Homo sapiens: one gene and its partners. The protein of the gene in region 2 purifies or fractionates together with the protein of the main gene of each other region. This does not show direct contact. Each region holds a gene or a part of one and is shown on either strand. Other genes may lie near its edges. The genes, in order: GMIP, PANK4 and SAE1.

Region 1 (3,645 bases), on a different chromosome or scaffold from region 2:
TCTGTTGGAGGAATGAATGATCACCCATGTTAGTACCTCTGCAGGGCTGTCCCCTTTTGTTACATCATCACTGCCCACTGCTCATTCCTCACTATTCCTTCCAGAATGAACATAAGTTAAATGAGGAAGGGAGGAAGAGAATGAAGGAAATTTTAAAAAGGAAGGAAGGTGAAAGAGAAGGTAAGAGAATTGAACAGAGATAAGGCCCTCTCCATAGCTGTGGGCCCAGTGGGTTCTTACCTCGGTAGGTGTGGCCGTGGGATGCTGCTCCAGGGTACTGTGGTGCTGGGGGTCTGGGCCGGGGTCTGAGGCTAGGACTGGGGGCTGGGAGTCTGGGTCAAGGTGCGGGGGTGGCGGTTGGGAGCTGGTTGTGAGGGGCCCAGGGGCTGGGCTGGAGTCTTGGGGCGGGGGCTCAGTGGCCTGGGGGAGCTCATCCATCCCAAAGATCTGCTCGTAGTGCACGATGAGGAACTCCACAAGCTGGGCCTGATGCCCAGAGTCCAGCAGGCAGGTGACAGGGATGGCGCTGGCTGCCCGCGGGCCGTCCGGCGGCCGCAGCAGTGTCGGCCCAAACACAATGCCCAGGTTGTTGGCAGACATCTTGTTTTCCATAAATCGTGCAGCCACCCTGGGGATGGTGTGAAGAGAAAGGTCAGGGTACAGGATGCAAGCTCATTGGTCTGAGGGTAAGGGTGGGACACGCAGGCCAGCCTAGAGGTGACTTGCCCATGTCACAGGTGTAAGTCGTCTGAGACCAGCAGCCACATATCCAGAACTGGAGGTCAGGGGTCAGTACCCAAAGTTATGAATCATGGATTAAGGTTCAGAGTTCAGAAAACACAGGTCAAAGGTCAGAGGTCAGTGTCAGGGGTCAGCCAGGGAAGTTAGTAGTCGCATGTCCAGGGAAAAGGGTCGCGTTTCAAGGCTCAGGGACCCATGCACACCTGAACAGATGGGCCACCAGGTGCCGCAGGGTGTTGTAGTTAGAGTCAGGCAGCTGTACCAAGAGGGTCTTCAGCGAGCGGATAACCTCAGGGCTGGGGCTGGGGGTCCCAGGGTCGTCCCCAGGGTCTGCATGCAAGGTCTTAGCCAGAGAGATGAAGGCGTCGTAGAGGTGGAAGGGGATCACGGGCTCGGTGAGCTGGGGGTGGAACGGAGGGCGCAACACGAGTGTGGGTGGGCTGTGGAGGGCTCCTGCCCGCGTCCCCCTCAGTGTCCTGAGCACCAACCTCCTGAAGAAATCGCTTGAGGACACTCGAGACGTCATGAGGCGAGTTCCCCGACAGCTCCACCAACGCTCGGCCATTCTCGAAAGCCTGGCACAGCCGCTCCACACGGACCCGGGACCCGCTGACCCGGTAAATGCCCTGCAGGGTGAGGGTGAAAAACAGACACCTGGTTCGTGATAGGCCATCGATTCGGTCAGGTCACTTCTGGGGATGATGAAGGGTCAGGGCAGCACCTGCACATCCAGGGCACGGTGTTCTATCTCAGCCGTGCACTTCGTGACCACAAAGGGTACCTCCTCCGGGAAGTCCCTGGGTAGCTGCAGGAAGTCAACCCCAAAAAGGGGTGTCCGGGCTGGGAGCCGCCTGTGTCCACAGAGGATCAGGAGAGTCTCCAGGCAGCGCTTGTGGCAGGTCAGAAAGCACTGTGGGGAAGGTCACAGGGACAGGGAGGTCATTAGGGACCAGTAGGGGAAGAGAAGGTTACAAGGATCCTCAAGGAATGGGGGCTCATGGGAGACATCAGGTTAGGGTGGGTCCCAGGGGCAGAAAGGCTGTAGGAATCTCAGGTCAGGGAGATGATCAAGGGTCAGCAAAGGTCATTTGGTCATTAACCCAGGCCACACCTCCTCACACTCCGTCCCGCTGACCATGAAGGCTTCGCACTCGCGGCACTTGGCTGGGCCCCGCAGTCGCCGCAGCTGGTGGGTCTGAGCCGCGCTGGACAGTGTCCACTTCCCGAAGGGGCTGCCCAGCCCATTCTCCAGCCCGTCTCCCAGGTCTGCAGGGAGACAGGGTCAGGAGTGCCTGGTGCCCTGCCCTGTCCCATCCTGACCTACCCTGCTTCAGCCTCACCAGGGTCTCGCTCCTCAAAGTCATCTGAGGACTCAGTGCCTGTGGACGAAGCCTTCACCAGCTGCCTCGTGCCAGCGCCTGGGGTCAGAGGAATCATGGGAGATTCCTGGGCTATGGGAGGCACTCCTGGTTTTTAGGGCTTCCAGAACCACCCACTAATTCCCAAGGGGTCAGAGGTCAGGAGGGGGATTGGACAGGTCAGTGGTTAAGGGTTGGAGAATTGGGTCAGCAACCTGAGGGGGGTGGTTCATAAGCTGGATCAAGAGGTTGAGGAAATAGGCCGGGCGCAGTGGCTCACACCTGTAATCCCAGCACTTTGGGAAGCTGAGGCAGGAGGATCACATGAGGCAAGGAGTTTGACACCAGCCTGGCCAACATGGCAAAACCTTGTCTCTACTAAAAATACAAACATTAACCAGGCATGGTGGCAGGCACCTGTAGTCCCAGCTACTCGGGAGGCTGAGGCACGAGAATCGCTTGAACCTGGGAGGCGGAGGTTGCAGTGAGCCAAGATCGTACCACTGCGCTCCAGCCTGGGCAACAGAGCAAGACTCTGTCTCAAAAAAAAAAAAAAGAAAGAAAGAAAAGAAAAGAAAAGGCCGGGCGTGGTGGCACACACCTGTAATCCCTGCACTTTGGGAGACCGAGGCAGGTGGATCACCTGAGGTCAGGAGTTCGAGATCAGCCTGGCCAACATGGTGAAACCCCGTCTCTACTAAAAAATACAAAAATCAGCCGGCGTGGTAGTGCACACCTGTAATCCCAGCTACTCCAGAGGCTGAGACAGGAGAATCGCTTGAATCTGGGAGGTGGAGGTTGCAGTGAGCCGAGATCACGCCACTGCACTCCAGGCTGGGCGACAGAATGAGACTGTCTCAAATAAACAAACAAATAAATAAATAAATAATTTTTAAAAAGGTAAAAAAAGAGGTTGAGGAAATAGGTCAGGGGTGTGGGGTAGGTCAGAGGTCAAAGATAGTTAAAGATTGAGGGTCAGAGCTTGGCCAGGGGCTGGAGGATGGTCACAGGTGGAGTGTGGGTCAGGACCAGGTCCTATCCCTACCTGGGCTGGAAGTGGGTGAGTCCAGGGACCGAGACTCGCTGCCGCCACCCACGCTGTCCACATCGCTGCCCGGAGTGGGGCCTGGAGTCCCTAGGTGGCACAGGTCAATAAGGATGGTCCCCTGCTCACAAACCCCACTCCTGCAGCCCACCTATGTGTTGGTGGAACGAACTCCTGGCACCACTCCCACCTGGCCCTCATTGCACTCACCTTGCCAGCGCCAGCCTGTGCCCGGATCCTCCCAAGGGCCTGGCTCAGCTGAATTCTCATCCAGCCTTGGAGGAAGAGGCCCAGAGAGCTTCTTTCTGATGTCCAGAGGGGAGCTGAGAAGACAGAAGTTTGAAGGTTTGAATCCCAGGAAACTGGCCTGGGGTGATGGCACCCAGGCATCATGTCTAGGTACCAACTCCAAGCACTTGGGTCTGCAAACCCTGACACCCAGGGCATTGTGGCCCCTGAAATACAGTAGCCCCACATTCCTGCCCCTGCCCCTAGGACTGG
Region 2 (3,645 bases):
AATGACCTCCAGAACCACAGAAGCAGAGCCTGGCATCTATGTGGGACACGGAGGTGACAGACACCGGGCAGCTGCCCAGGTCGCCCTCGGTCTCAGCTGAGTGGCCACAGGGACATTGGCCCCTCTTGCCCCAAGTCCCCAAACCCAGCCCATGTGTAACCACCTCAGACCCTGAATCCATTCACCCTCCCCAGGCCACCTTCGGGGATGGCATATCTGTCCCCTCCTGAGATCAATCCGGGCCTGGGGTCAGGAGAGGCCGCAGGGGCAGTCCTGAGGTCGGTGTCCCGCATGCACCTGGGTGCAGGTGCACGGCACAGAGGGCACAGAGCCCAGGAGGGAGAGAACAGGTGCAGGGTGCGGGGTTACCTGAGGTCGAGGCACGGGGAGCTGGAGCCCGTCTGCACCAGCAGCAGCCTCTCTTCCTGGAGCGCAGAGCTGCCAGATACAAGGTGGTCAGTGCCCCCAGGAGCTCCCAGTTCAGTGACAATCCCCATGGCCCACTCTGCCCAGCTGGTGCCCCTCCCCATCAAGGCCCCCCCAGCACTGCCCGCCAACACTCACTGCACGACAGGGTCCATGCCCGCAATACGCTCTGCCACGATGAGGGACTCGCTGTGGGTCACGTCGTTCAGGGCGGGGCCTGAGTTGCACGCCAGGATGACCTGCAGGAGGAGGGCCCAGGCTCTTTAGGAACCTGTGCTGGCCCAGCATGGAGCCTGCGTGCACCCCGGCCTTCGAGTGGCTGGGCTGGGTGAGGGTGCTGTGCCCAGCGGGCCTGGCCAGCCACCTGCTGCTGAGGAGCAGGGACCTCGCCTGACCTTGCCACTCTGTGGCCCCTGGGAGGGAGCTGAGCCGAGGGGCAGAGCTGAGTTTAGAGCCTGCCCCTGGGACCTGCCTGTCTGTGAAGTCACAGCCCCAAAGCCTCCTTGCTGTGAGCACCCTTCCAGGAGCCTGGCGTCAACCCTGGGCTTCAGCACATGGACCCTCAGCCTGAGCCCAGGGGGCTCGGAGCCTCCACCCCAGCAGATGACGGCTCTGGGCCGCCTCCCCCGTGCTGCTGCCTGCACCTACCTGCTGCGTCCGGAGGAGCCCCGACCACCGCCAGAGGCCCACAGCGGCGCCAACCCCACCGAGAGCAGAGAAGCCCAGGGGAAGGGCCCCACCCACCACCTCAACACTCACCTCTGTCCCTCTAAGGAGTAGCTCCCTGACAAAGGGGAAGACTCCCAAAATGATGTCTATTCCACTGTTATCTGCGAAAATTAAGGCACATTTATGAGGGGGCCCCTGTAAGACAAAACCAGGACGTTCAGTTGGGAACAGGCGCATCCAAGCGAGTCAGTCCGCACCCCTGCTGCCCGTCACGCTGCCCTGCAGGGGCCGAGACTGGGGGCTTCAGGGCCCCAGAGATGCCAGGGATGGGCTGTCCTGCAGGGGCCGAGACCAGGGGCTTCAGGGCCCCAGAGGTGCCGGGACTGGGCTGGGCTGCAGGGGCTGAGACCGGGACTTCAGGACCCCAGAGGCACCGGGACGGGCCAGCCTGCAGGGGCTGAGACTGGGGCTTCAGGACCCCAGAGGCGCCAGGGACGGATTGGCCTGCAGGGGCCAGTGCCTGTCTCTTCTGGCAAGGCTTTGTGCCTAGAGCAGGTGACCTAAGAAGCAGTCACGACAGGAGGGCAAGTGTGGGGCAGGGGATGCTGAGACCCTTGGCTCGCAGGATGGTGAGACTCTAACAGGAGGGGAGGGCCACCCGAGGCAGCCCATGCCCACCTCCCTCCAGTGACCACCCCCCCGGGCCCCGCTGTGTCCCCAGCAGCAGAGGTGGGAGGCCCCTCCACATACCTTTAATCTCTGAAGCCACTCGCTGTAGGAATCCACGAGCCAGGGTCTTTCTGAGACAGAGAGAGGGACACATGATTAGCCCGGTGCTCCAGGTCAGGGGTCAGGGAGACGCGTCTTCAGGTGTTCGTCTCTCCAGGAAGCAAGTTCTCCCCGCCCCCGAAGCCCAGCTGACAGAGCCTTGAGCAGGGGAGGTGCCTGGACCCCGACCGCAACTGCATTCGCTGTTGCAGAGAACGTCCAGGCATGGCCCCAGCACAAGGCAAGGCCCCAAGTTACTTGGCCATCCGTACCTTGTAACTTCCTCTTTGCTTCTTCAAACCCAAAGTAGGGGTCGGATTCAAGGACACTGCATGGAGGAGGAGAAAAGAAAATTAAGACAACAGAACAAAAACCTTCAGCCACAGTGCTCAATGTGAAGACCCCAAATCCCTCCCAGGCGGGACAGAGGCAGCTGCTCAATGTAAAGATCCCAAATCCCTCCCAGGTGGGACAGGGGCAGCTGCTCAACGTGAAGACCCCAAATCACTCCCAGGCAGGACAGAGGCAGCTGCTAAGACCCCAAATCCCTCCCAGGTGGGACAGAGGCAGCTGCTCAACGTGAAGACCCCAAATCACTCCCAGGCAGAACAGATACAGCGTTCTTAACATGCTGCGATCCGCAGAAGGCTCAGGGGGCCACCAAGCAAAGGTCTGAGAGAGCACAGGCTGTTTCTCAAGGTGGACTCGGAGCCACGGGGCCAGGGAAGCCTCTCGGTGACTGGCAGCCGCAGTATGGTCCCTGTGCTTGGCACCCATGCAGGCGGTGTGGGGAGCCCCCAGCCACAAGGCCAATCCCATGGGTCAGGACCCTCCTCCAATGCTCCTGACAGGCTGCGGGAGGGGCCTGTGTCCCAGAGGGGCAGCCATGGTTGGAGGCGGCGTTCTCATCTATGTCTCGAGACACGAGTGGGACCCAGGGAGGGCTGAGAACCCAGGCATTTCCCTCCAGCCCCACATGAAAAAAAGCAGGGACCACGAGAGGTGGTGCGGCCGCCTGGGGAGGCCCAGAGACTGGAAGCAGCTTCTTTGGGAGTGAAGGTAAATGATGGTGGGGGGGTTCATTTTCAAGATTCAGAGCCCCAGGAGACGGCGCCAGGTGCTAGACACCTGCGTGTCCTACAGGCCAGTCTAGGGGACTGCTTTGCAAAGCACCCTTTGATCATCACATCAGAAATGTTTAATTCCTACCACACATAGGAAACATGAATTTGGATTCTGACAATAGAAAATGCCAGCCCCGATTTTCAAATCCACACCCTTAGGCCTCTGCGGCACCCATGCTTAAGGAAGGGGCCTCCTCAGAACCTGAGGGGACAGACAAGGGCGCTGCGCCCTGCCCAGCCCCTGGCGCTGCTGCCATGTGCACTCCCTGGGCCCCAAAGCCCTGAGCCACCAAGCCACCAAGCGCCACGTGACCCCCAAGGGACCCGCTCCACCTCCTTGCCCGCAAGCCTGGGGCAGGACAGGCACCCACAGGCTGCAGAGCCTGCTCCGAGCCCGCAGACACCTACGCAGACACGGCTTTGGCCCCCCAGTCGAAGACATTCCCCGCCAGGAGGCCTTTCACCAGCGCCAGCTGCCGTTCCTCCCAGCCCAGCGCGTCCAGGGAGCGCACGACCCCGGGGAAGCACCTCAGCGCCACGCCATTCTCCCGCTGCTTCACCTGTGGAGAGTGCCAGATGCCAGGCCTGAGTGAAGACGTGGCCTCAGCCCACCCTGGACACCTGCCAGGCGCAGCCTGTTCCATACCACGCCCCTCAG
Region 3 (3,645 bases), on a different chromosome or scaffold from region 2:
TTTTTGGCTTGAGCACCTACCTGGAACGATGGAATTGCCATTTTGAAAGATATGGAGAGCTGTAGGTTTGGTGGGGTCGGGGAAGAGTCAGTTCTCTTTTAGGTTTCAGATTTGTTTTTTTTGTTTGTTTTTTTTTTTTTTGAGACGGAGTCTCACTCTGTCGCCCAGGCTGGAGTGCAGTGGCATGGTCTCGGCTCACTGCAACCTCTGCCTCCCAGGTTCAAGCAATTCTCCTGCCTCAGCCTCCCGAGTAGCTGGGATTACAGGCGCCCGCCACCATGCCCAGCTAATTTTTGTATTTTTAGTAGAGACGGAGTTTCACCGTGTTGGTCAGGCTGGTGTTGAACCCCTGACCTCGTGATCCACCTGCCTCGGCCTCCCAAAGTGCTGGGATTACAGGTGTGAGCCACCATGCCCGGCCTCAGATTTGTTTTTTTATACAACTAAGTAGAAATATGTGAGGGGTTGAGTTCAGAGGTAAAATTTGGGTGATGGTGGGTATTGTGTGAGTACAGAGTATAGAATTAATGGAGGGGTTGGGGAGGCAGACACGTCAGGAGAATTTAGTTTGAGGGGGTGGGAGCTTTCAGAAGGTTTTAGAGGGTGCAGTGGTGGGATGGGAATTACCTCAGGCTCATTTCAGATCTGTGGGGTCTTCTTTGATGGGGTGGGGGGATGTCATCATGAGGCATTAACATTGGTGGGAGGGTTGAAGGCACCTGGAATAGATTGGGAATTAAGTGATGAGAATGTGCCTCTGGACATAGGTGGACTGCATTGATTTTAGGGACTGCTATTTTCTGGATGGAGTGGAAAGAGGATTTATGTGAGTTGGAGGAAACTTTGAGGAAGCTTGGTGTGTTCTGAGATCCTAAAGGGTTGGGGAGGGGATTCTAAGGTACTGGAAGGGTTAATCGAAGGGGTTTGCGGCAGCAGATAGCTTTGTTTGAAGTGGGGCAAAGTTGGTGAGGTTTAAACTGGAATGTAGTTAGGGAACTTTCAGAGGGATGGGGATGATTTTTCTGAGAAGCAGTGAAGAATGGATGGGGGCCTCTGAGTGGGAGATGACCTAAGGGACAAGTCAGGGTCAGGGCATGGAATTTGTGGGAGGTAGGAATTATTCTGAGGGAGTGGAGCTGTACCAAATTTGGTGGAGAACATGAAAAGGATTGGCTGGGGGTTGCAGGAGGGAGGGAAGAGGTTGTTTGTAATTTGTACTCTATTTTTAGACAGTCTTAGAGAGTTTATTAAAGTGTTTTTTGTCCATTTTCAGCCGAGGTTTTTAGAAATTAAAAATTTTTTTGTGTGAGTACATAGTAGGTGTATACATTTTGGGGGTATGTGAGATACTTTGATACAGGCATACAATGGGTAATAATCACATCAGGGTAAATGGGGTATCCACCACCTTAAGCACTTATCCTTTGTGTTACAAACAATCCAATTATATTCTTTTAGTTGCTTTGAAATGTACAACAAATTATTGTTGACTGTAGTCACCCTGTTATGCTATCAAATACTGTATCTTATTCATTGTATTTAATTATATTTTTGTATCCATTAGTCATCCCTCCTTCCCCTCCACCCCCCACTACCCTTCCTAGCCTCTGGTAACCCTCAGTCTACTATCTGCATGAGTTCAATTGTTTTAATTTTTTTAGTTCCCACAAATAAGTGACAGCGTGCAAAGTTTTCTTTCTGTGCCTGATTTATTTCACTTAACATAATAACATCCAGTGCCCTCCCTGTTGTTGTAAATGACAGGATCTCATTCCCTTTTTTTTGTAGACAGGGTCTCTCTGTCGCGCAGACTAGAGTGCAGTGGTGTGATCACAACTCACTTCAGCCTTGACTTCTTGGGCTCAGGTGATCCTCCCACCTCAGCCTCCCGGTAGTTGTGACTATAGCACGTGTCACAAGCCCAGCTAATATTTTAGTACAGGTGGGGTTTCACCAGGCTAGTCTCCAACTCCTGGGCTCAAATAATCCTCCTGCCTCCCTGCAAAGTGCTGGGATTAGAGGCGTGAACAGCAATGCCCAGCCTTTGTACCACAATTTCTATTTTTTTTTTTGAAACGGAGTCTCGCCGTGTCGCCTAGGCTGGAGTAGGCTGGAGTGCAGTGGCGCAGTCTTGGTTCACTGCAAGCTCCGCCTCCCAGGTTCACGCCATTCTCCTGCCTCAGCCTCCCTAGTAGCTGGGACTACAGGTGCCCGCCACCACGCCCGGCTAATTTCTGTATTTTTAGTAGAGACGGGGTTTCACCTTGTTGGCCAGGATGGTCTCAATCTCCTGACCTCGTGTACCACAATTTCTTTATCCATTTGTCTGTTGATAGACATATGGGTTGCTTTCAAATCTTGGCTATTGTGAAGAGTGCTGCAATAAACATGGGATTTATTGCAGTTTTTTTTCTTTTGAGACCGAGCCTCGCTCTGTTGCCCAGGCTAGAGGACAGTGGCACGATCTCAGCCCAGTACAATCTCCACCTCCCAGGTTCAAGCGATTCTCCTGCCTAAGCCTCCCAAGTAGCTGAGATTACAGGCACCTGCCACCACGCCCGGCTAATCTTTGTATTTTTTAGTAGAGATGGGGTTGCTGTGTTGGCCAGGCTGGTCTCAAACTCCTGGCTTCAGGTGATTGGCCCTCCTTGGCCCCCCAAAGTGTTGCAATTACAGGCGTGAGCCACCACACCCAGCCTGATTTATTTTCATTTGGGTATATACCTAGCAGTGGGATTGCATTTTTACCCGAGTCTTTTTTTTTTTTTTTTTTGAGACGGAGTTTCGCTCTTGTTACCCAGACTGGAGTATGGTGGCGTGATCTCAGCTCACCGCAACCCTTGCCTCCCAGGTTCAAGCAATTCTTCTGGTTCAGCCTCCCAAGTAGCTGGGATTACAGGCGTGTGCCACCATGCCCGGCTAATTTTGTATTTTAGTAGAGACGGGATTCCTCCATGTTGGTCAGGCTGTGAACTCCTGACCTCAGGTGATCCGCCCGCCTTGGCCTCCCAAAGTGCTGGGATTACAGGCATGAGCCACAGCCCCCGGCCTTCACCTGAGTCTTATAGCAGCTCTCTGGAGTCGGAAGGGCAGTGATTTCCTTCTCTGTTCAGATGAGGAAGGAGGCTCCACAGAGCAAATTGACTTGCCTCTAAGAGGGCTCTAGGTGGGATAGGAGGGTTCTAGGTGGGATAGGAGAACTCTGGAGACTGGAGTTCCTTTATGAAACAGAAGCCCTGGAAATGGGCAGGCTGATAAAATGTACAAATTGTGGGGCATTTTATAAGACAGTTATCCTACTTCTCTTCCAAAAGTCAGTTTCATGGGAAAAATAAGTGAAGGGACTGTTGTGGATTAAAAGAGAGTAAAGGCCGTCACAGTGACTCAGCCTGTAATCCCAGGACTTTGAGAGGCCGAGGTGGGTGGATCACCTGAGGTCAGGAGTTCGAGACTAGCCTGGCCAACATGGTGACCGTCTCTACTAAAAATACAAAAAAAATTAGCCAGGTGTGGTGGTGGGTGCTTGTAATCCCAACTACTTGGGAGGCTGAGGCAGGAGAATTGTTTGAATCCAGGAGGCAGAGGTTTTAGTGAGCCAAGGTCACACTATCGCACTCCAGCCTGGGTGACAAGAGCGAAACTCTG

The links.
Region 1: the proteins of PANK4 (region 2) and GMIP fractionate together in Homo sapiens (co-fractionation; one large-scale study listed by BioGRID). This does not show direct contact.
Region 3: the proteins of PANK4 (region 2) and SAE1 fractionate together in Homo sapiens (co-fractionation; one large-scale study listed by BioGRID). This does not show direct contact.

Annotation. Positions count from the first base shown.
Region 1 is NC_000019.10:19,633,563-19,637,207, forward strand, and holds part of GMIP (GEM-interacting protein), read right to left. Parts: intron 3,468-3,645; coding exon 3,355-3,467; intron 3,235-3,354; coding exon 3,145-3,234; intron 2,160-3,144; coding exon 2,082-2,159; intron 2,008-2,081; coding exon 1,853-2,007; intron 1,652-1,852; coding exon 1,463-1,651; intron 1,368-1,462; coding exon 1,230-1,367; intron 1,142-1,229; coding exon 945-1,141; intron 629-944; coding exon 241-628; intron 1-240. UniProt on the Homo sapiens protein: Stimulates, in vitro and in vivo, the GTPase activity of RhoA.
Region 2 is NC_000001.11:2,509,493-2,513,137, forward strand, and holds part of PANK4 (4'-phosphopantetheine phosphatase), read right to left. Parts: intron 3,548-3,645; coding exon 3,396-3,547; intron 2,192-3,395; coding exon 2,136-2,191; intron 1,896-2,135; coding exon 1,846-1,895; intron 1,291-1,845; coding exon 1,186-1,290; intron 666-1,185; coding exon 565-665; intron 439-564; coding exon 370-438; intron 1-369. UniProt on the Homo sapiens protein: Phosphatase which shows a preference for 4'-phosphopantetheine and its oxidatively damaged forms (sulfonate or S-sulfonate), providing strong indirect evidence that the phosphatase activity pre-empts damage in the coenzyme A (CoA) pathway.
Region 3 is NC_000019.10:47,133,740-47,137,384, forward strand, and holds part of SAE1 (SUMO-activating enzyme subunit 1), read left to right. Parts: intron 1-3,645. UniProt on the Homo sapiens protein: The heterodimer acts as an E1 ligase for SUMO1, SUMO2, SUMO3, and probably SUMO4. It mediates ATP-dependent activation of SUMO proteins followed by formation of a thioester bond between a SUMO protein and a conserved active site cysteine residue on UBA2/SAE2.